Linked DNA regions of Homo sapiens: all the other regions are linked to region 1. Evidence: fine-mapped expression QTL. A gene starts in region 1. Each other region holds a variant in brackets. All regions are shown on one strand. Distances are from middle to middle.

Region 1 (8,032 bases):
TGCAAAGATCTGAAATTTGCATTCAACTTTGACAGCATAACATTCACACCACCTGACTATAAACATCTTTTTTTTTCCCCCAAGACGGAGTTTCACTCTTGTACCCCAGGCAAGAGTGCAGTGGCGCAATCTCAGCTCACTGCAACCTCCACCTCCCGGGTTCAAGCGATTCTCCTGCCTCAGCCTCCAGAGTAGCTGGGACTACAGGCAAGCACCAGCACGCCCGGCTAATTTTTGTATTTTTAGTAGAGACAGGGCTTCATCATGTTGGCCAAGATGTTCTTGATCTCCTGATCTTGTGATCCGCCCACCTCGGCTTCCCAAAGTGCTGGCGTGAGCCACTGTACCCGGCCAACTATAAACATATCTTAAAAGAGAATCCAGCTGGGCGTGGTGGCTCACGCCTGTAATCTCAGCACTTTGGTAGGCCAAGGCGGGCAGGTCACTTGAGGTCAGGAGTTCAAGACCAGCCTGGCCAACATGGTGAAACCCCATGTCTACTAAAAACAATAAAAAAATTAGTCAGGCAAGGTGGCACGCATCTGTAATCTCAGCTACTCGGGAGGCTGAGGCAGGAGAATGGCTTTAACCTGGGAGGCGGAGTTTTGCAGTGAGTTTTGCAGTGAGCTGAGCTCATGCCACTGCATCAGAAACTCAGTCTCAAAAAAAAAAAAAAATCCAACTTCACCACTAGGGTATTCTTCAGCAGACTCCATACATCCTAACTTCATTCACACATATTTTCCTTTCTTTTACTACATTTGTGCTTTTAAAAAATTCAAAGAATTTATGGAGAAGGAATTTGCTAATACCACATCTCTAACAGCTGCTAGTCGAATGTACTAAATCCATAGCTGCGTCTGTTACATTATGTGGCCATCTTATACTTGAGGAAAGTCTGGTTGCTTTCAAAAGAACTGATTTAAACCCACCCCATGGAGTTTAAGAACAAGTTCCATGGAGCTTAGGGGTTGTGTGGATAATTCTGCCTGAATGTAATACTGCAATTACTTATGATTAAGTATCTCTAGTACTTATCCATTCAGTCTCCTTAGCCTGAAGCACTGAAGAACAAATGCCCATCAACAAGTCATGTGGGAATGAGCAGCTGATATAAAGTACTGCATGCTTTCAAGACAGGTGTTCTTTGTTTTTTTTAAAACATACACACAAGTCTGACAATGATTATATCTGCCAGATAATTAAGAATTAGAACATAAAAGAATATGCCATTCTAAAAAACGTTACTGGAGTCCAAACAGATGCAAATAAAAGAATTAAACATTTTTTCAAAAATTTCCCAGAAATTTTGATTTTCAGATTTTGATATGCTTCAGCACACAAGTTGTCTTATCTGAAGAATGAAAACTGTTGCTGTTTTAATTCTAAATAAGGCACTTCTCTCTAGAATATCAAAGATTTGGAAACCTAACACTAATGAGTACACAATCATTCAAAAAAGCCATGTGGCATAACATTTGTAAAGCTGAACTGCACCTGTCATGAGTCAACAAAAGAATATTTTATATACAAACCACATAGTGTTGAAAACTTGATAATCTGTTTAAACTGATCCATTAAAAGAACTCCACCGTCAAATGGAATAATACAAATAACTAAAAATTGGATTAACACAAATAATGAAGGATTTCCCATTTAAAACGCACAGGATAACACTCCCGACAAGGGTCTGAATCTCTCCATACTTCTGTTCCCTCATCCACAAAAGGGCACAACAATAGTAACGACTTCTTAGAGTTATCAAGATTAAATAAATTAGCAAACATTAAATTCTTGTAACAGAGCCTGGCAAAGGGTAACCACAAAAGAAATGTTTGCTGTTATATCAAGAACCAAAATTTTTAAGATGAAAATAAATAGTAATAGCAATTGAGAATAATCATAAAAAATAAAAAGGACACAGTAGTCATGACTTCTGGAAGAACAGTTTTAGGGTAGCTTAAAGCATAAACCAAATAATGGAAAAAGAGCCCCTACTAAAAAAAAGATAGCTACACGCCTTCAAAGTGGATTCATACATCCTACTACCTCGATTATTTGTCATTAGAACTAGTTTGCAAAATTTGATTCTTCCTCCTACGCTCTGCATGTGAATCCCAGCCCCTACCAGCAAAAAAGCCACAAAACTAGTCCCTTAGGGGAAGGAAATCAGAGGTTAAGGGTAAGTGAAGCTCTTTGCATTTTCTAGTTTTATTAACAAACTACCAAGTTGAAATTCATTCCTGAGCTAAACTGCCAAATGCTTCTGCAACAAAAACTGCAAACTTTCACGTGAACAGATCTTTTCAACAATAGAGAGTTGTTCCAGGCTGTGAATAGGACAGTGTCAGTGTGACCAACACAGCGGGTGCTGGACATTCCTGACACCCTTGTCCCCTGGCTAGCCTTTGATCACTTATCTCCCAACAGCATTTGGTTTTGGGAATCACTTTCAGGCAAAGTATACAGACTTTGCCTTAGCGTACATAATCTATACGCTAAAACTCATCTTTTGTCACAGCCCATCACGAGCATCCCATTAGCATAAAGCACCAAACACAGGAATGCTTTGTTTTCCAAAATCTGTCCACCTTCACTCCTAAACAGTCCCTCCGTGTTTTAATTTGTATATTCTGGAAAACATCATGGGATGACAGTGGCAATTCAAACAATAAAATAATCTAAGAACCGAAAAAGGTCCTGGTCTGGTTACCTGCGGATGGCTGCCAGGGGAAGAGTGTGGTGTCCTGCTTTAGGTAAATATGAAGTTGAGGCTTCACTACTTAGAATGCAGCCTTGGAAAGCAGACTAGACTTGACTCTGAAAATGGATTAATGAAACCTATCTCACAGAGCTGCTGAAAGGAGTAAACGAGATAATGGCTCCAAAGTGCCTAGTAGACAGTACAAGCTCACTAAAGGAAAGCTATTTTAGTCCTCTGTACAACTGTCCAGGAAAATGTGGATCTAATGAGAATTCCAAACAGAGGGAAAGAAAATGCACAAAACTATCAAGTTTATTAGTGTGTCTTGATCAAATGCCCCGAATGCTATTTCCGGATAAGAGTCTGCGTGGTCTCCTCGGCCAGGCCAGAGACAAAAAAGGTACTGGATTGATATCCATTTTATTTCTGTAAAAGAAAAGCAGTTCCTTTGTGTCGAGTCAAATGAACTGCAGATCCCCAGAGGGCTGTGACCAAGCAGCCCGCCAGGCCTCGGAGCTCTGCCTCGCCGGTCCTCAGCTACGTCCCCCGCTCACCGTCCCTTCTGGAGAGCACAGCACTGCTGCGCAGGGTCTTCCAGCAAGTTCCAGCGCCCACGCCGCAGCTGCCGCGCTCCCTCCAGAGGGCCGTGCCCACCGCCCGGGAGGGGTCCACCCCGGGGACGAGCCCACCGCCCAGCACAGGACCCCGCCTGGGAGGAGCCCACCCGGGGGATGAGCCCACCGCCCAGCACAGGACCCCGCCTGGGAGGAGCCCACCCGGGGGATGAGCCCACCGCCCAGCACAGGACCCCGCCCGAGAAGAGCCCGCCCCCGGGGTCCGACGGCTGTCCGGGACCGACTCACTGCCTGGGACGGGCCCCCCATCCCAAATTAGCTCCCCGCCCCGGTCCAACTGCCGGGCGTCCCAGGGCCCCCGCCCTAGCCAGGCCCGAGTCCCAGCCCTGGCTGCGGGGACGCGGGCGCGCGCCGCCCCTCCGGCCCGGGACCCCGGGAGCCCTCGGAGCCAGGACCGCTATCCTCGCCCGGACCGGCTCCAGCAGCTTCGGCCCGCTCTGCTTCCGTCGCCCCCAGACCCTAGTCTCCCAACAGCGGAAACGCGCAAACTCACCCCTGAAAAGCAGCAGCAGGAAGAAGTCAGGCAGCCGAGCGCAGAGCCGGAGTCGCGGTGGCCGCCTCAGCGCCATGTCGAGGGTTGCTGAGGGGCCAGCGGCAGCGCGGCGCGGCTTGTAGTCCCCGCGCGCATGCGCCCAGCCTGCCAGGACCCTGCGACCCGCCCCAGTTACCATGGCGACCGCCGGGCCCAGCCGAGCCGGCACCATGGTGACAGAGGAAGCTGAGGTCTAGCTGCTTACGGATGCAGCGATGCTCTGGACCGGCACATGGGTTCTCTTTCAATGAACTTGGCGGGAGGAGAGTAAAGAAGTATGTACAAGAGTGAAGCAGGGTATATTTCCATAGCTATAGAATAAATCCATCACAACAGGTCGGAGAAGGAACACTCCTTTAAAATTTGGGAAATAAAGTATTTCTTATTTTACAAATAAGGATGCAGCCCAGTTATCTTGGAAGCATTATCGCCTTCACATCTTTTGGGCCCCCAATTCCAAATTGATGGAAGGAAAAGAGCTGAAATCTGCTTAAAACATAAGCAATACATACATTATACAGCATATAAAAGTGATGTCTTGCTAAAATAATTTGTTTATGTGGTAGATCAAAAGCATGATGGCATACCCAATAGTTTATTCTGCAGAAAAGCAGACTAATTATTTGCTCTGATTTCTGAATACTGGGAGATAGTAAAACCAGGGAAGAACAGGTAAGATGAGGACAAACAGGAAAAATGAAGAGAAGGATAAATTAAAGCAGAAATTAGATCTAAAAAAGCAAGAGTATTTAAAGTCTCACTTAATACTATGGAAAATACTTGAAAAGCTTGTATTTTAGCAAGTATAGAAAGTACACCTCCAATGTTCCCAGAAACAGCAGTCTAGCAACAGAATTCTGAATATAATTGTTAGTAAAATAAGCCAGTTTCCAACTAATATTTTTAATGTTTAACTTTTTCATATACTCATGCTACTTTTTTAGTATTTTTAGTTTTCATGCAAAATAGAAGTATATTTACATATTATGTATACCAAATTTATATATGTAAAAGCCGGGAAACGTGAAATAGATTGAGATTGTTGCCAAGAATATGCTTCAGTTTCCATCACTGTATAATCTTCTTTGTAAATCTTTATAACTGCTCAGATCTTTATGTTAATTGATTACCTTCTCAAAAATCTTATAAAGACAGAATAAAAATTAAAAAATAACTCAATTACCTACTATGATTCTGTCTTTCCTTTCATAAATCTTCTTTATGTTCCAGGTCACCATGCACTAAATCACAAGTAAAAGTGTGTAAAAGTTGTTTTATAATGGTGGCCTCTTTCCCTTTATCAAGCACAAAATCGAGAAATTAAAAAGAAGAAAATTCGTCTTATGCCCACTGACATTTTTTTCTGCCCTCTGTTTTCCCTATTATTCCCTTTAGCTCCTGGTCACATGGCCAGGCATATTTACCTAACTGAAGGAACTGTTTGGGTTACTTGGAAATGTGAGATGGTGTCTGACTGTGGACAGAGCACGGTTTTCAAAAACCAGTGCCTCTTTTCTCCTGCGGAATTTTCAGTGTTTGCGTTGTAAAATGGTCTATCTGTTAAATGGTCTTCCTGCTAGGGAATCTTTTGAAACTCAGACCGAGATTACAAAAAAGGGCTGCATGAATATTCTATAAGGGGCAGAGGTTCCTAGGAGAGTGGATGGCAGGTGCTTCATTGTAAGACATTGATTTTCCTCTGCAGATGGAGTCGGCATGTCATTACCAACAGCTGAGACAGTTCCTGGAATGGAAGTCTAACTAGGGATGCAGCAGAGTGGGGTAGGACACACGTGGCTGTGAAGTGGTCTGCTCTTCCTTAGGGTTTCATTGTTCCCTGGAGAGCTCTGACCCTGTGCAGAAGGGAATCAGAGCTCAATAAGGCCAGCAGCAAAGTCCTGGAAGCATTCCGTGAGCAGGGCTGAGGAGGCTCTGCCTCCATCACAGCATTACTCATCTGAATATGCTTATTTCTAAGGTGTGGCTTACTAGGGAGACATGCACTTCTTAAAAGAGCTCGGGGAACTGAATGTAAACCAACAATAAAATGCTAAGCCCTGGCCAGGCGTGGTGGCTCACGCCTATAATCTCAGCACTTTGGCAGACCAAGGAGGGAAGACCATGAGGTCAGGAGTTTGAGACCAGCCTGACCAACATGGTGAAACCCTGTCTCTACTAAAAATACAAAAATTTGCCAGGCATGGTGGCAGGCGCCTGTAATCCCAGCTACTCGGGAGGCTGAGGCAGGAGAATCACTTGAACCCGGGAGGTGGAAGTTGCAGTGAGCCAAGATTGCGCCACTGCACTTCAGCCTGGGTGACAGAGTGAGACTCTGTCTCAAAAAAAAAAAAAAGCTAAGCCCCTCAACAATCTGAAATGACCCCTCCTCTCAGCCAAAGGCACTGCAAAGTTAACCTGAAAAACTAGTTTAAGCCATGATCGGGGAGTTGGATATGCCTTATTATACCCTCCACCCTTTTGGAATTCAGGCCAACTGACCAGCATCAACATTAAAACAGATCTTAAGACTGATAGGGCCAGGTGCGGTGGTTCAGGCCTGTAATCCAGGCCCTTTAGGAGGCCAAGGTGGGCGAATCACCTGAGTTCAGGAGTTTGAGACCAGCCTGGCCAACATGGTGAAACCCTGTCTCTACTAAAAATACAAAAAATTAACCAGGCATCATGATGCATGCCTGTAGTTCCAACTACTTGGGAGACTGAGGCAGGAGAATCGCTGGAACCCAGAAGGCGGAGGTTGCAGTGAGCTGAGATCGTGCCACTGCACTCCACCTGGGCAACACAATGAGACTCCGTCTAAAAACAAACAAACAAAAAAGACTGATACAACAGACTCTCTCTCTCTCTCTGAAGCCTGTTACCTGGAGGCTTCATCTGCATGATAAAAACTTGGTCTCCACAACCGTTATTCTAACACAGACGTTCCTTTCTTGCTTGCTTTTTTTTTGTTTTGTTTTTTGTTTTTGTTTGTTTGTTTGTTTGACAGGGTCTTACCCTGTCACTCAGGCTGGAGTGCAGTGGCACACAATCGTGGCTCATGCTTGAGCCTCAACCTCCAGGCTCAAGCAATCCTCCCACCTCAGCCTCCTGAGCAGCTGGGACCACAGGTGTGCGCCACCATAGCTGGCTAATTTTTCTACTTTTTTTTTTGGTAGAGATGGGATCTCACCATGTTGCCCAAGCTGATCTTGAACTTCTGGGCTCAAGTAATTTGCCCGCCTCAACTTCCCAATGTGCTGGGATTACAGAAGCGAGCCACTGCCCCAGAGCCAGACCAGACCTTCCTTTCTATCAGAATAATCTTTGAATCTGCCTATGACCTGAAATCCCAACCCCACCCACTTATAGTTGTCCCACCTTTCTAGACAGAACCAATGTACACCTTACATGTATTGACCGATGCCTCATGTCTCAAAAAAAAGAAAAAAAGGAATGTGATCCATGACTTCTGTTCCTTTACTATGCTATTCTAGCCCTGAACAATCATCTGAAGTCAACCCGCATCGCATGAGAGAAGTGGGATCCTTTGACTAATGGAAGTCTCTGACCTCAGAGTCCTTCTTTAAAGCATTCTTCTTCAGGGCTTTTCAAAGACCTGGGTATGTTTCTGTTTCTCCATCTCTCCTCTCTTTAAGTCCCATCTTCCTCACAATATTTTCAACTATGTTATCCCACATTTTATCTCAACTCTTATCCCCTGCTTTTTCCTTCAAAGTATTTCTTTAATTTTATTTAAATAGGAAAACCTTCTCCCACCTCCCTCTAAGGAAACAGTAGCAGACAAAACTTCCATCTTCTCCAATAACATATGCCGCTTGTGGTCTGCAAAAGAAGAAAAGTTCTTCCGCAGTTCGATCTATTTGCACATTTCTCTCCTTTGCTGAAAAAGTTTATATACCAATGGCAGATTTTGGTCAAGTGGCTTCCTAGAGAGAGGCTTTCATAAGCAGCTATTTAATAAACCTTTTGCATTTCACCAAAAGAAGGCTAGGTGTTCGTGTGTGTGTGTGTGTGTGTGTGTGTGTGTGTGTCTTTCAGTAGAAATATCATACATGCCAGGAGTTAAAGAGAGTCACACCCTTATGCTAGGGCAGGAGTTAAAGTATCCTGGTGGTATCTCTATCAGCCAAGGGCTCTTTACTG
Region 2 (8,032 bases), 94 kb before region 1:
AAGCTCCTCTCACGAGTGTGCGCCTCCCCCAAGCTCATCTCACAAGTGAGTGTGCAGCTCCCCTAAGCTCCTCTCACGAGTGTGCGCCTCCCCCAAGCTCATCTCACGAGTGTGCGCCTCCCCCAGGCTCATTTCACAAGTGAGTGTGCTGCTCCCCCAAGCTCATCTCACAAGTGAGTGTGCTGCTCCCCTAAGCTCATCTCACGAGTGTGCGCCTCCCCCAAGCTCATCTCACGAGTGTGCTGCTCTCCCTAAGCTCATCTCACGAGTGTGCGCCTCCCCCAAGCTCACCTCACTAGTGAGTGTGCCCCTCCCCCAAGCTCATCTCACAAGTGAGTGTGCAGCTCCCCCAAGCTCATCTCACTAGTGAGTGTGCAGCTCCCCCAAGCTCATCTCACTAGTGAGTGTGCAGCTCCCCCAAGCTCATCTCACTAGTGAGTGTGCAGCTCCCCTAAGCTCATCTCACTAGTGAGTGTGCAGCTCCCCTAAGCTCATCTCACTAGTGAGTGTGCAGCTCCCCTAAGCTCATCTCACGAGTGTGCGCCTCCCCCAAGCTCATCTCACAAGTGAGTGTGCGCCTCCCCTAAGCTCCTCTCATGAGTGTGCGCCTCCCCCAAGCTCATCTCACAAGTGAGTGTGCAGCTCCCCTAAGCTCCTCTCACGAGTGTGCGCCTCCCCCAAGCTCATCTCACGAGTGTGCGCCTCCCCCAAGCTCATCTCACAAGTGAGTGTGCTGCTCTCCCTAAGCTCATCTCACTCAGTGTGCCCCTCCCCCAAGCTCATCTCACAAGTGAGTGTGCTGCTCCCCCAAGCTCATCTCACTAGTGAGTGTGCCTCTCCAAGCTCATCTCACTAGTGAGTGTGCAGCTCCCCTAAGCTCATCTCACGAGTGTGCGCCTCCCCCAAGCTCATCTCACAAGTGAGTGTGCTGCTCTCCCTAAGCTCATCTCACTGTGCCCCTCCCCCAAGCTCATCTCACAAGTGAGTGTGCTGCTCCCCCAAGCTCATCTCACTAGTGAGTGTGCCCCTCCCCCAAGCTCATCTCACTAGTGAGTGTGCCCCTCCCCCAAGCTCATCTCACAAGTGAGTGTGCTGCTCCCCCAAGCTCATCTCACTAGTGAGTGTGCCTCTCCAAGCTCATCTCACTAGTGAGTGTGCAGCTCCCCTAAGCTCATCTCACGAGTGTGCGCCTCCCCCAAGCTCATCTCACAAGTGAGTGTGCTGCTCTCCCTAAGCTCATCTCACTGTGCCCCTCCCCCAAGCTCATCTCACAAGTGAGTGTGCTGCTCCCCCAAGCTCATCTCACTAGTGAGTGTGCCCCTCCCCCAAGCTCATCTCACTAGTGAGTGTGCCCCTCCCCCAAGCTCATCTCACAAGTGAGTGTGCTGCTCCCCCAAGCTCATCTCACTAGTGAGTGTGCGCCTCCCCCAAGCTCATCTCACAAGTGAGTGTGCTGCTCTCCCTAAGCTCATCTCACTGAGTGTGCCCCTCCCCCAAGCTCATCTCACAAGTGAGTGTGCTGCTCCCCCAAGCTCATCTCACTAGTGAGTGTGCCCCTCCCCCAAGCTCATCTCACTAGTGAGTGTGCAGCTCCCCTAAGCTCATCTCACGAGTGTGCGCCTCCCCCAAGCTCATCTCACAAGTGAGTGTGCATCTCCCCTAAGCTCCTCTCACGAGTGTGTACCTCCCCCAAGCTCATCTCACAAGTGAGTGTGCAGCTCCCCTAAGCTCATCTCACGAGTGTGCGCCTCCCCCAAGCTCATCTCACAAATGAGTATGCTGCTCCCCTGAGCTCATCTCACGAGTGTGGGCCTCCCCTAAGCTCATCTCACGAGTGTGCGCCTCCCCCAAGCTCATCTCACTAGTGTGCCCCTCCCCCAAGCTCATCTCACAAGTGAGTGTGCTGCTCCCCTAAGCTCATCTCACAAGTGAGTGTGCTGCTCCCGTAAGCTCATCTCACAAGTGTGCCACTCCCCCAAGCTCATCTCATGAGTGTGCCACTCCCCTAAGCTCATCTCACGAGTGTGCTTCTTCCCCTAAGCTCATCTCAGAAGTGTGCCCCTTCCCCGAAGCTTATCTCACGAGTGCGCCCTTCCCAAGCTCATGAGTGTGCCCCTCCACTTAAGCTCATGTCACAAGTGAGTGTGCAGCTTCCCTAAGTTCATCTCACAAGCGAGTGTGCAGCTCCCCCTCAGCTTATCTCACAAGTGAGCGTGCTGCTCCCCTAAGCTCATCTCACAAGTGTGCCGCTCCCCCAAGCTCATCTCACAAGTGTGCAGCTCCTCCTCAGCTCATCTCACAAGTGAGTGTGCTGCTCCCCTAAGCTCATCTCACAAGTGAGTGTGCAGCTCCCGCAAGCTCATTTCACAAGTGAGTGTGCCGCTCCCCCTCAGCTAATCTAAGTGTGTGCAGCTCCTCTAAGCTCATCTCACAAGTGGGTGTGCAGCTTCCCTAAGTTTGTGTCACAAGTGAGCATGCCACTCCCCTAAGCTTATGTCACAAGTGAGTGTGCCCCTCCCCCTAAGCTCATCTCACAAGTGAGTGTGCAGCTCCCCCTAAGCTCATGTCACAAGTGAGTATGTAGCTCCCTCAAGCTCATGTCACACGTGAGTGTTCAGCTCCCCTAAGGTCATTTCATGAGTGTGAAGTTCCCCTAAGTTCATTTCACGAGTGTGCAGCTCCCCCAAGCTCATGTCACAAGTGAGTGTGAAGCTCCCTAAACTCATGTCGCAAGTGAGTGTACAGCTCCCCTAAGCTTATTTTACAAGTGAGTGTGCAGCTCCCCCAAGCTCATGTCACAAGTGATTATGCGGCTCCCTCAAGCTCATGTCACAAGTGAGTGTGCAGCTCCCCTAAGCTCATGTCACAAGTGAGTGTGCAGCTCCCCTAAGCTCATTTCACAAGTGAGTGTCCCACTCTTCTCACCATCTACTGGCTTCCGTGTTCTCCCTGGAATCCTGGTGCCATGCTCTGGTGCTGACTTCTTTCTTACTGATGGCTTTAACTCTTGCCAGATGGTGACAATTCTCAAACCTGTTTCCCACTCCAGCATTTCTCATGAGCCTGAGCTCAGGTCCCCCTGCTGCCAGGACGTGCTCCGGGTGTCTCTGACTTACTCTGTCAAAACTCCCTCAGTCATCTCTTCTTTCTGCTCTTCATCTCCTCTTTCTCCCACAGTTTATGGTGCTCTTGCAGACTGGAGTCTGGTGTGTCAGGCTGAGGCTTTTGTTGGCAGGAAGTGTAGAATTTGGATCTGAATGACTGGGGCAGAGCTTGGCTGCCACAGGCCTCTGCAGGCCTGTGTTTTCCTCCTAGCCTGGATTGCCAATGTGTATTTCCCACCTGGCCTCTGGAGGCTTTTGACTCCAAGGATATAGACTCTGATCATATCTTGCCACAAGATCCTGCCTGTTTTCTCTTACCAATCTATCTCTCTAGTTCTGACCTTATTTAAGCTTATCCCATTTCCATGGTTTCCTTACCACCCTTTCTGTTTCTGGTTTCTTTCTGTCACAGGCCATGTACCACCTTGCTGCCAGAGCAGTCTTTCTTTCTTTTTCTTTTTTTTTTTTTTTTTTTTT[G/TTG]AGACAGAATCTCACTGCGTCGCCCAGGCTGGAGTGCAGTGGCGCGATCTCAGCTCACTGCAAGCTCCGCCTCCCAGGTTCACGCCATTCTCCTGCCTCAGCCTCCCGAGTAGCTGGGACTACAGGCCCCTGCCACTGTGCCTGGCTAACTTTTTTTTTTTTTTTTTTTTTGAGACACAGTATCACACTGTTGCCCAGGCTGGAGTGCAGTGGTACGATCTCTGCTCAGTGCAAGCTCTGCCCCCCTGGGTTCATGCCATTCTCCTGCCTCAGCCTCCCTAGTAGCTGGGACTACAGGCACCAGCCACCACGGCCGGCTAGTTTTTTTGTATTTTTAGTAGAGATGGGGTTTCACAGTGTTTGCCAGGATGGTCTCAATCTCCTGATCTCGTGATCTGCCCGCCTCGGCCTTCCAAAGTGCTGGGATTACAGGCATGAGCCACCACACCCAGCCCAGCAGTCTTTCTTAAGTACAAATTTGATCATTTTATTATATCTGAAACAGACTAAAGGCAGGTTGACTGTGAGGGGTGGCAGGAAGCTTTTGGGTGATAGATGGTGAGTGGTCTGTAGTGCTGGTTATTCCATATAGACTTTTGTCAAAGCTCATGGAAGTGTTTGTTTAAAATGGGTAAATTTATTACATATGTTATACTTCACTAGTGAAATCTTTAAAAACTATGCTGGTGGCTTCCTGTCATCTTCTGAATAAACCCTGATTCTTCTTTTTCAAGGTAAACAAGAACTTCTGGTGTGCCTTCCACCTTTCCCATACCTCCCTCCATCCTCACCTCTAACCTCTCCACTTCAAATTGCCATCTGCACCTCAGTTGCGAGCTGCCCCCTACTCGTGTGCTCTTGCCTCTGGGTCTAAAGTCTGCAGCGCCCTCACCCACCCATCCTCCCTTCTCCACACATCCTCAGGATCATCCATCAGATGGCCATGCACTCCTTAGGCATCCCATCTCCATACCTAAATTCCCTAACACCCTGCCACTTAACACCTCTTCCCTTGAGACACACACTTTCTAGAAGTGGCTGGAGGGCAGGGATGCTTAGCTTCATTTTGCATCCTCAGAGGGTTAGCTCTTTGCCTGGACAGAGAAGGTGCTTGATAATACTTGTCAAGTGAATGCATGGAAGCCACTTCTTAAGACTATTCCTGAACATAACATCTGCTCACATCTGGGTTTATTAAATTGCTTATTTCTCTACTTGTTGTCCTTCTGTTTCAGGAACTCTGATAAGACTTTTTAGAAATGAGTAGTTTACAAGGAAGAAACATACACTAGTGACTTTAAATGAGAAGGAAAAGAGTAGTTTCAGCTTCAGGAGGATAAATCTTGCATATGTGGGCTACTATAGTGCTTTTTTTTTAATTTAAAGAGATTCACTGGAGAATATTTGTGGTTAGTGATCATTCAAGGTAAAGTGTGAAGACTTGGTCAAATCAGGTACTATATATATAAATTCATAGTATTTTGTAGATGTGTACACAGAGAGAGAGACAGAGCTGGCTGTCTTCATGCTTAGCCATTTTTAGACCATTGTCCCTTCACCAGCAGGAATACGAAGTGTCCCTCTGGGTAGCCAGAACGAGCTGACTTCTGTTCCAAGGGGAGGGTGTTGAATTGAGGACTGAAGGTGGAGCAAGAGCCAAGGTCCCTCAGGGTCTTCTGTGGAGATTTGGGGCTTTTGTCAAAAGCTACTCAACATGTTTCTAATTCTTTTTCCCCATTTAGAATATATGAGTAGTATTTGTCCCCACCCTATCTTACAAAGCCTTCAGAGTGTTTTGAGGTAATGCTTACAAAGTCTCCCAGAGAAAAGCAGAGGTCCTCTACATCCAGTATCATAATGAAAAGCAAAAATAAACTTACATAGTGTGGTAGGGTGGCTCTACTCAAAGAACTAGATCAAGGAGAGGCCTGTCTTTCAGAAGTTCATACATCTAAAACATGTCTTTGTTTGTGTTACCAGGTTCAGAAGAGGAATTTCATAGAAAATATTATTCCAATTATCATCTCCCTGAAGACTGTGCTGGAGAAAAATAAGATCCCAGCTTTGCGGGAACTCATGCACTATCTCAGGGTAAGGGTGGAGCCTGTGCTTTTGTGGTTGTTGTCCTACCAGTTCATTACTTAGGATCTTCTGCCAGTTATGACAGTGCAGGCAATCCGTGAATGATTAGAACCCCAAATTCTGCAAACCCAACATTACCTTGGTAACTGCTGTGGAGCTAGGGGTTGGCTGTGGGTTCCACCAAAGCCGCTCTTTCCCTTGGATGTGCAGCCAGGGCCGTGAAGAGCCGGCCCACTGTGCCAAGCACGTCTTCCCTTAATGGAGTTCAAGTCCATCTGGAAAACTTTCCCAGCTGGGGTCAAGAACACAGTCATCTTCGTTCATGCTGCTTGGGGGTAAGGTGAAAGTGAGTCTTCGGGTTTGATTTCAGGGTGCTTACCTTTTGCACTGACTCAGATTCACAAGGTCAGGAAATAACTGCCCTGCAGGAGCTGCCTTCGGAGCTGCCATCACCAGGCTGAATTCTTTGTCAAGCAAGGGGACCATGAGGAGCTCAGTCGGAGCAAACCCAGGATGTGTTGACTTGCAGGGCGGACCTAAGTGGGGCCTCAGACCTTTCTTGCAAAATCTTTTACTAAGAAATAAATGCAACATAGTTTTTCTTTAATTCAGCAGTTATAGCTCTGTTCACATTATGTGTTTTTCTTCCTCAAAAAAATGCTACAATTTTTTTTCCAATAAAGGCCTCAACAAAAATTACATTGAATATAAATTTTCAAATAGCTTTTTATACTAGGAAGCCAAGGTAGGAAAGATAGTCTCATTGTATGATAAAAATAAAAACTTCCAAATATTCTTGTATTTATTGCCTGACTTTAGACCCTAGAAAGGAAAAAAAAAAACAAAAACAGAGCTTTGATCCTACATAGACTACTTAAACACTTAAGAAAAATAAGCCTTCCTCCTGCTTGTGAGCACACACACAGGATGGCCACACGTTGCTTGTTGTCAGTAGCTTGAGGGAGTCTCTTCATTGGCCTGTGGAACCCACTCCTAGTGGCAGCTGGAAAAGTGCATGGATTCCTTCTCTTTGTTGAGACTTCCCTCCCAGTTGGAACTGCAGTGTCTTTTTCTCCCTATTACTGTTAGGTGGAATGATTCTTTCTCTTAGCAAAGTGGTCTTGCCCCTGGCACCCCTCTTTAAGACCTAAGAATGTTTTTCCCTAGGTATGAGAAAAGGTTTTCTGTAAAATCTTCAGAAGAAGACACAAAGATGGGATTTGAGCCTTAGTTGGAATCCCCTGAGAGCCAATGGGGAGGCTAATGTAGACAGATGAGCAGCTTTTAGATCCATGCATCCTGGGACTTGCTCCAGAGGCTGTGTCTGAGCATGTCTTTCTCCCATTGGGAACCTGGGAGAGATTGCCCATTAACTGCCACATAGCCAGGATGCTTCCTAAGAGAGAGAACTGTTAGTTACTCACATATTTTTCTGCTTGTGTGGCCAGTGGTGTTTGCTCCAAATATACCATTGTACCTGTTAGTTACTGGAATGGAAATCATCTGCTTTCAGTAATGTCAGTCCTATTGTTCCTATGATTTATCAAGCAACATGACTTGGGGGGCTTTTTTCTTTCTTAACTTTTATTTTGCGTTCAGGGGTACACGTGCAGGATGTGCAGGTTTGTTACACAGGCGAAGGTGTGTCGTGGGGGTTTAGGGCTTTACGTTTTTATTCAAGAAAACATGAAAGGATGCTCCTGGCTCTGTTTCAGGAGGTGATGCAGGATTACCGAGATGAGCTCAAGGACTTCTTTGCAGTTGACAAACAGCTGGCATCAGAGCTTGAGTATGACATGAAGAAGTACCAGGAACAGCTGGTCCAGGAGCAGGAGCTAGCAAAACATGCAGATGTGGCCGGGACGGCTGGAGGTGCTGAGGTGGCACCTGTGGCACAGGTAGGTGTGGGGCCCACTGCACTGTGACCAGACAGTCCAGTCTGCTGTCTGCTACCAGTCTGTCGTTTGTCTGGCACCTCTCAAGATCTCCGTCATCAGAGGTTAGTCAGCCCGAAGGCCTCGAGAGTGCTGCTTGTTGGCCACTCCCTCGTGCCTTTCTGTCTGTGATGGATTTACTGTGCTCCAGACCTCCCTTCCATGAGGACGTGGTGCAGGAAGCGAGCTGGCAGCAGCAGTAGCTGGTGACTATAGATCCTAGGTCTGCCAGGGTGTGTCAGTGTGTCCGCATCTTCCCCCAGCACTCCCTCTTTAGAGCAGACCGGCACACGGCCATTTCTAGGAGTAGCTGTTGCTCACCGTCCTGAGGAATGCAGGCAGATCTCTTGTAGGAAAGACCAATGAGCACAAAGTAGCATACTCCTTTTTCTCTTCTGTCATGCCACAGCATCTACAAGTGGCAGCTTTCTCATA
Region 3 (8,032 bases), 37 kb before region 1:
TGTGGTTTTAATTTGCATTAAGGTGCAAATTAAATGATGCAAATTAGGTTAAGCATCTTGTATTTATTTTCCATTCATAAGATCTCTGCTACAGTTACTCAACTCTGCCATTTTAGAGTGAAAGCAATGTGAAGGGAAAATAAAAACTCAGACCCCACTTCACTCTGCCAAAAGGAAAAAACTAAGCTGAAAGCTGTGTCCTACAAGAAGCTGCCTTTCCATTTGTTTCTAAGCAGACAGCTATAGAGAAAAGGTTCAGTATCTCCCCAGGTAGCTACTCCATGTTCACCTTATCTTATGTAAAGTATTTATTTACTGGGCACAATATGAATACATAATTGACTATTTCCCTACCTGCTCCTTTTCTCTTGCAACATGTGGATTACCACATTCTCCCTCTTTCCCCTCCAGCCCACTTTTTCCCTTTAAATATTGCAGCCCTCAAAATCATTTTTGAAAAAAGGCACAGACCACTGACCATTTATGTGATTCCATGTTTTATTCTTCCGGGCATGTCCTTAACCTTGGCAAAATAAAGTTCTCAATTGATTGAGACCTGTCTCAGATCTTTTGGGTTTACAGCAGCCATAGTTGATAAGTAAATGGATGGATGTGGCTGTGTTCCAATAAAATTTTATTTGCAAAAGCAAATAACAAAAAACCAGGCAACAGTTATATTTGGCCTTTGGATTGTAGTTTGCTGATCCCTGACATAAATGTTAATGTCCTCTGCAAATAAAGATATGAAGACAGCTTTACTTCTTCCTAATTTTTTTTAAGTTCTTTTTTTCATCCCTGGTTGCACTGCTAGAACCTCCAATACAGTGTTGAATAGAAGTGGTGAGAGCAGGCCGGGCACGGTGGCTCACGCCTGTAATCCCAGCACTTTGGGAGGTTGAGGTGGGTGGATCACATGAGGCCAGGAGTTTGAGACCAGCCTGGCCAACGTGGTAAAACTCCTTCTCTTCTAAAAATACAAAAATTAGCCGGGGGTGGTGTGGTGGCTCGTGCCTGTAGTCCCAGCTACACGGGAGGCTAAGGCACGAGAATTGCTTGAACCTGGGAGGTGGAGGTTGCAGTGAGCTGAGATTGTGCCACTGTACTCCAGCCCGGGAGATAGAATGAGACTCTGTATTAAAGTTAAAAGAGCTGGTGAGAGCAGGTATTTTTGTCTGGTTTCTACCAATAATATAATATTACCTATAACTTTTTCATGGATATTGTTTATCAGATTGGGAAACTCCCTCTATTCCTAATTTTTGGCTTAATTGAACCAGCTTTTGGTTTATTGATTTACCTCTGTTGTTTTGCTGTTGTCTGTCTCAGGAAGTTCCTTCCTATTCCAAAAGTTTTTTTTATCATAAATGGATGTTGAATTTTGTCAAGTGCTTTTTCTGCATCTGTTGAGAATGTAATATGGTGATATTGCGTTATTATAATGAATTACATTAACTGATTTTCATATGTTAAACCAACCTTGCATTCCTGGGATAAACCTCGGTTGGTTTTTGTTTTTGTTTTCTTCCTATACACACAAACAGCCAGAACTTGGTCTTTTTTATGATTGACTTGCTAAGATTTTGTTTGAAATTTTTGCATCTATGTTCACGAGGGAAATTGGCCTGTAGATTTCTTGTAATGCCTCTGGTTTTGATATCAGGGTAATTCTGGCCTCATAGAATACTTTGGGAAATAATTCTTTCTTTTCACTTTGTTGGAAGAGTTTCGTTAGAATTGGTGTCTTTTTTTTCTTAAATGTTTGGTAGAATTCACCAGTGATCTGGGCCTGGAGTTTTCTTTGTGGGCAGTTTTTTTTTTAACTATAAATTATTTTTAAAAAGTAGATGTTAGGCTATTCAGGCCACTTATTTCTTCTTGAGTGAGCTTTGGTAGTTGTGTCTTTCAAGAAATTTATTTGATCCAAGTTGTGAAATGTTTAAGCATAAAGTTGTTCATAATATTTTCTTATCATTCTTTTAATGTGTTTATAGTCACCTATCTTATTCCTGGCATTGTTAACTTGTTTCTTTTCTCTATTGTTCCCAATTAGTCTAGTAGAGGTTTCTTAATTTTACTGATATTTTCAAAGAAACAGCTTTTGGACTTACTGGTTTTTTTCTGTTGTTTTTGTTTTCTGAAGTCTCATGATTTCTGCTTTTACCTTTATTATCTTCTTTATTCTGCTTACTTTGAATATGTGTTCTTTTTCTGATTTTTTTTCCTATTTTTCTGTTTATTTATTTATTTTAGAGACAAGGTCTTTCTCTGTTGCTTAGCCAGAGTGCCGTGGCGTAATATTAGCTCACTGTAGCCTCAATTTCCTGGGACCAAGCAATTCTCCTGCCCCGATGTCCCAAGTAGCTGGGACTACAGGCATCTACCACCATGCCTGGCTCATTTTTAAATTTTTTGTAGAGATGGGGACTTGCTATGTTGCCCAGGCTCTTTTTCTAATTTCATAAAGTAGATGAACTCACTGATTTCAGACCTTTCTTCTTTTCGAATATAGGTCTTTCATGCTGTAGATTTCACCCTAGTTACTGCTTTAGTGGCCTAGTCTTAATTCTGATGTCACATTTTTATTTTCATTCACTTCAAAACACTTTTTTTTGACTATTTATATATATTTTTTATACTTTATGTTCTAGGGTACATCTGTACAACGTGCAGGTTTGTTACACATGTATACATGTGCCATGTTGGTGTGCTGCACCCATTAACTCGTCATTTACATTAGGTATATCTCCTAATGCTATCCCTCCCCCCTCTCCCAACCCCACAACAGGTCCTGGTGTGTGATGTTCCCCTTCCTGTGTCCAAGTGTTCTCATTGTTCAATTCCCACCTATGAGTGACAACATGCGGTGTTTGGTTTTTTGTCCTTGCGATAGTTTGCTGAGAATGATGGTTTCCAGCTTCATCCATATCCCGACAAAGGACATGAACTCATCATTTTTTATGGCTGCATAGTATTCCATGGTGTATATGTGCCACATTTTCTTAATCCAGTCTATCATTGATGGACATTTGGGTTGGTTCCAGGTCTTTGCTATTGTGAATAGTGCCACAATACACATACGTGTGCATGTGTCTTTATAGCAGTATGATTTATAATCCTTTGGGTATATACCCAGTAATGGAATGGCTGGGTCAAAAGGTATTTCTAGTTCTAGATCCCTGAGGAATCGCCACACTGTCTTCCACAACGGTTGAACTAGTTTACAGTCCCACCAACAGTGTAAAAGTGTTCCTGTTTCTCCACATCCTCTCCAGCACCTGTTGTTTCCTGACTTTTTAATGATCGCAATTCTAACTGGTGTGAGATGGTATCTCATTGTGGTTTTGATGTGCATTTATCTGATGGCCAGTGATGATGAGCATTTCTTCATGTGTCTTTTGGCTGCATAAATGTTTTCTTTTGAGAAGTGTCTGTTCATATTCTTTGCCCATTTGTTGATGAGGTTTTTTTCTTGTAAATTTGAGTTCTTTGTAGATTCTAGATATTAGCCCTTTGTCAGATGAGTTGATTGCAAAAATTTTCTCCCATTCTGTAGGTTGCCTGTTCACTCTGATGGTAGTTTCTTTTGCTGTGCAGAAGCTCTTTAATTAGATCCCATCTGTCAAATTTGGCTTTTGTTGCCATTGCTTTTGGTGTTTTAGACATGAAGTCCTTGCCCATGCCTATGTCCTGAATGGTATTGCCTAGGTTTTCTTCTAGGGTTTTTATGGTTTTAGGTCTAACATTTAAGTCTTTAATCCATCTTGAATTAATTTTTGTATAAGGTGTAAGGAAGGGATCCAGTTTCAGCTTTCTACATATGGCTAGCCAGTTTTCCCAGCACCATTTATTAAATAGGGAATCCTTTCCCCATTTCTTGTTTTTGTCAGGTTTGTCAAAGATCAGATGGTTGTAGATGTGTGGTATTATTTCTGAGGGCTCTGTTCTGTTCCATTGATCT[A/G]TATCTGTTTTGGTACCAGTACCATGCTGTTTTGGTTACTGTAGCCTTGTAGTATAGTTTGAAGTCAGGTAGCATGATGCCTCCAGCTTTGTTCTTTTGGCTTATTATTGACTTGGCAATGTGGGCTCTTTTTTGGTTCCATAGGAACTTTAAAGTAGTTTTTTCCAATTCTGTGAAGAAAGTCATTGGTAGCTTGATGGGGATGGCATTGAATCTATAAATTACCTTCGGCGGTATGGCCATTTTCACGATATTGATTCTTCCTACCCATGAGCATGGAATGTTCTTCCATTTGTTTGTGTCCTCTTTTATTTCGTTGAGCAGTGGTTTCTAGTTCTCCTTGAAGAGGTCCTTCACATCCCTTGTAAGTTGGATTCCTAGGTATTTTATTCTCTTTGAAGCAATTGCGAATGGGAGTTCACTCATGATTTGGCTGTTTGTCTATTATTGGTATATAAGAATGCTTGTGATGTCTGGACATTGATTTTGTATCCTGAGATTTTGCTGAAGTTGCTTATTAGCTTAAGGAGATTTTGGGCTGAGATGATGGGGTTTTCTAAATATACAATCATGTCATCTACAAACAGGGACAATTTGACTTCCTCTTTTCCTAATTGAATACCCTTTATTTCTTTCTCCTGCCTGATTGCCCTGGCCAGAACTTCCAACACTATGTTGAATAGGAGTGGTGAGAGAGGGCATCCATCTTGTGCCAGTTTTCAAAGGGAATGCTTCCAGATTTTGCCCATTCGGTATGATATTGGCTGTGGGTTTGTCATAAATAACTCTTATTATTTTGAGATACGTCCCATCAATACCTAATTTATTGAGAGTTTTTAGCATGAAGGGCTGTTGAATTTTGTCAAAGGCCTTTTCTGCATCTATTGAGATAATCATGTGGTTTTTGTCTTTGGTTCTGTTTATATGCCGGATGATGTTTATTGATTTGCGTATGTTGAACCAGCCTTACATCCCAGGGATGAAGCCCACTTGATTATGGTGGATAAGCTTTTTGATGTGCTGCTGGATTTGGTTTGCCAGTATTTTATTGAGGATTTTTGCATCGATGTTGATCAGGGATATTGGTCTAAAATTCTCTTTTTTTGTGTCTCTGCCAGGCTTTGGTATCACGATGATCCTGGCCTCATAAAATGAGTTAGGGAGGATTCCCTCTTTTTCTATTGATTGGAATAGTTTCAGAAGGAATGGTACCAGCTCCTGCTTGTACCTCTGGTAGAATTCGGCTGTGAATCCATCTGGCCCTGGGCTTTTTTTTGGTTGGTAGGCTATTAATTATTGCCTCAATTTCAGAGCCTGTTATTGGTCTATTCAGGGATTCAACTTCTTCCTAGTTTAGTCTTGGGAGGGTGTATGTGTCCAGGAATTTATCCATTTCTTCTAGATTTTCTAGTTTATTTGCATAGAGGTGTTTATAGTATTCTCTGATGGTAGTTTGTATTTCTGTAGGATCGGTGGCGATATCTCCTTTATCATTTTTTATTGCATCTATTTGATTCTTCTCTCTTTTCTTATTAGTCTTGCTAGCGGTCTATCAATTTTGTTGATCTTTTCAAAAACCCAGCTCCTGGATTCATTGATTTTTTTGAAGGGTTTTTTGTATCTCTATTTCCTTCCATTCTGCTCTGATCTTAGTTATTTCTTGCCTTCTGCTAGCTTTTGAATTTGTTTTCTCTTGCTTCTCTAGTTCTTTTAATTGTGATGTTAGGGCGTCAATTTTAGATCTTTCCTGCTTTCTCTTGTGGGCATTTAGTGCTATAAATTTCCCTCTACACACTACTTTAAATGTGTCCCAGAGATTCTGGTATGTTGTGTCTTTGTTCTCATTGGTTTCAAATAACATCTTTATTTCTGCCTTCATTTTGTTATGTACCCAGTAGTCATTCAGGAGCAGGTTGTTCAGTTTCCATGTAGTCAAGTGGTTTTGAGTGAGTTTCTTAATCCTGAGTTCTAGTTTGATTGCACTGTGGTCTGAGACAAGTTTGTTATAATTTCTGTTATTTTACATTTGCTGAGGAGTGCTTTACTTCCAAGTATGTGGTCAATTTTGGAATAAGTGCGATGTGATGCTGAGAAGAATGTATATTCTGTTGATTTGGGGTGGAGAGTTCTGTAGATGTCTATTATGTCCGCTTGGTGCAGAGCTGAGTTCAATTCCTGGATATCCTTGTTAACTTTGTCTCGTTGATCTGTCTAATGTTGACAGTGGGGTGTTAAAGTCTCCCATTATTATTGTGTGGGAGTCTAAGTCTCTTTGTAGGTCCCTAAGGACTTGCTTTATGAATCTGGGTGCTCCTGTATTGAGTGCATATATATTTAGGATAGTTAGCTATTCTTGTTGAATTGATCCCTTTACCATTATGTAATGGCCTTGTCTCTTTTCATCTTTGTTGGTTTAAAGTCTGTTTTATCAGAGACTAGGATTGCAACCCCTGCCTTTTTTTTGTTTTCCACTTGCTTGGTAGATCTTTCTCCATCCCTTTATTTTAAGCCTATGTGTGTCTCCGCACATGATATGGGTCTCCTGAATACAGCACACTGATGGGTCTTGACTCTTTATCCAATTTGCCAGACTGTGTCTTTTAATTGGAGCATTTAGCCCATTTACATTTAAGGTTAATATTGTTATGTGTGAATTTGATCCTGTCATTATGATGTTAGCTGGTTATTTTACTCATTAGTTGATGCAGTTTCTTCCTAGCATCGATGGTCTTTACAATTTGGCATGTTTTTGCAGTGGCTGGTACTGGTTGTTCCTTTCCATGTTTAGTGCTTCCTTCAGGAGCTCTTGTAGGGCAGGCCTGGTGGTGACAAAATCTCTCAGCATTTGCTTGTCTCTAAAGGATTTTATTTCTCCTTCACTTATGAAGCTTAGTTTGGCTGGATATGAAATTCTGGGTTGAAAATTCTTTTCTTTAAGAATGTTGAATATTGGCCCCCACTCTCTTCTGGTTTGCGGAGTTTCTGCCGAGAAATCCACTGTTAGTCTGATGGGCTTCACTTTGTGGATAACCTGACCTTTCTCTCTGGCTGCCCTTAACATTTTTTCCTTCATTTCAACTTTGGTGAATCTGGCAATTATGTGTCTTGGAGTTGCTCTTCTCGAGGAGTATCTTTGTGGCATTGTCTGTATTTCCTGAATTTGAATGTTGGCCTGCCTTGCTAGGTTGGGGAAGTTCTCCTGGATAATATCCTGCAGAGTGTTTTCCAACTTGGTTCCATTCTCCCCATCACTTTCAGGTACACCAATCAGACATAGATTTGGTCTTTTCACATAGTCCCATATTTCTTGGAGGTTGTGTTTGTTTCTTTTTACTTTTTTCTCTAAACTTCTCTTCTCGCTTCATTTCATTCATTTGATCTTCAATCACTGATACCCTTTCTTCCAGTTGATTGAATCAGCTACTAAAGCTTGTGCATTCGTCACGTAGTTCTCATGCCATGGTTTTCAGCTCCATCAGGTCATTTAAGGACTTCTCTACACTGGTTACTCTAGTTAGCCATTTGTCTAATCTTTTTTCAAGGTTTTTAGCTTCTTTGCGATGGGTTCGAACTTCCTCCTTTAGCTCGGAGAAGTCTGATTCTCTGAAGCCTTCTTCTCTCAACTCATCAAAGTCATTCTGTGTCCAGCTTTGTTCCGTTGCTGGTGAGGAGCTGCGGTCCTTTGGAGGGGGAGAAGCGCTCTGATTTTTAGAATTTTCAGCTTTTCTGCTCTGTTTTTTCCCCATCTTTGTGGTTTTATCTACCTTTGGTCCTCGATGATGGTGACATACAGATGGGGTTTTGGTGTGGATGTCCTTTCTGTTTGTTAGTTTTCCTTCTAACAGTCAGGACCCTCAGCTGCAAGTCTGTTGGAGTTTGCTGGAGGTCCACTCCAGACCCTGTTTGCCTGGGTTATCAGCAGCGGAGGCTGCAGGACAGCGAATACTGCTGAACTGTCTGGGTTTTATATGAACTCCATCCCTTACCATGCTACGTTGGGTATGTTACTGTGCCTCAGTTTTCTCATCTATGAAATGTCTAAATTAGTGCCTACTTCGTAAGGTGGCTGAGATA

Alleles and levels. Alleles are on the strand shown, and positions count from the first base shown. SD is a standard deviation of normalised expression in the study named.
For the expression in Th17 cells of the gene that starts at base 3,920 in region 1, G is the high allele of the variant in region 2 and TTG is the other (large effect, 0.92 SD a copy in Schmiedel 2018).
For the expression in subcutaneous fat of the gene that starts at base 3,920 in region 1, allele G in region 3 goes with a lower level than allele A (small effect, 0.24 SD a copy in GTEx).

The links. PIP is the estimated chance that this variant, and not a neighbour inherited with it, causes the effect. A credible set is the group of variants that fine-mapping cannot tell apart.
Region 2: its variant is the best candidate, but not a certain one, in a credible set for the expression of JAM3 in Th17 cells (Schmiedel 2018, PIP 0.81).
Region 3: its variant is the best candidate, but not a certain one, in a credible set for the expression of JAM3 in subcutaneous fat (GTEx, PIP 0.59).

Annotation. Positions count from the first base shown.
Region 1 is chr11:134,064,960-134,072,991 of GRCh38, reverse strand. JAM3 (junctional adhesion molecule 3) reads right to left here and starts at 3,920. Exons shown (of 9, transcript NM_032801.5): 1 at 3,833-3,920. The coding sequence starts at 3,908. RefSeq lists a silencer at 3,926-4,115.
Region 2 is chr11:134,159,421-134,167,452 of GRCh38, reverse strand. It overlaps NCAPD3 (non-SMC condensin II complex subunit D3), which reads left to right. Exons shown (of 35, transcript NM_015261.3): 28 at 5,562-5,672; 29 at 7,379-7,561. Among named protein-coding and RNA genes, the nearest start is that of SNORD153, 12 kb to the right of the region's middle. The variant G/TTG (reference allele first, on the strand shown) is at 3,582.
Region 3 is chr11:134,102,079-134,110,110 of GRCh38, reverse strand. All of the region lies in intron 1 of JAM3 (junctional adhesion molecule 3), which reads right to left. Among named protein-coding and RNA genes, the nearest start is that of JAM3, 37 kb to the right of the region's middle. The variant A/G (reference allele first, on the strand shown) is at 3,959.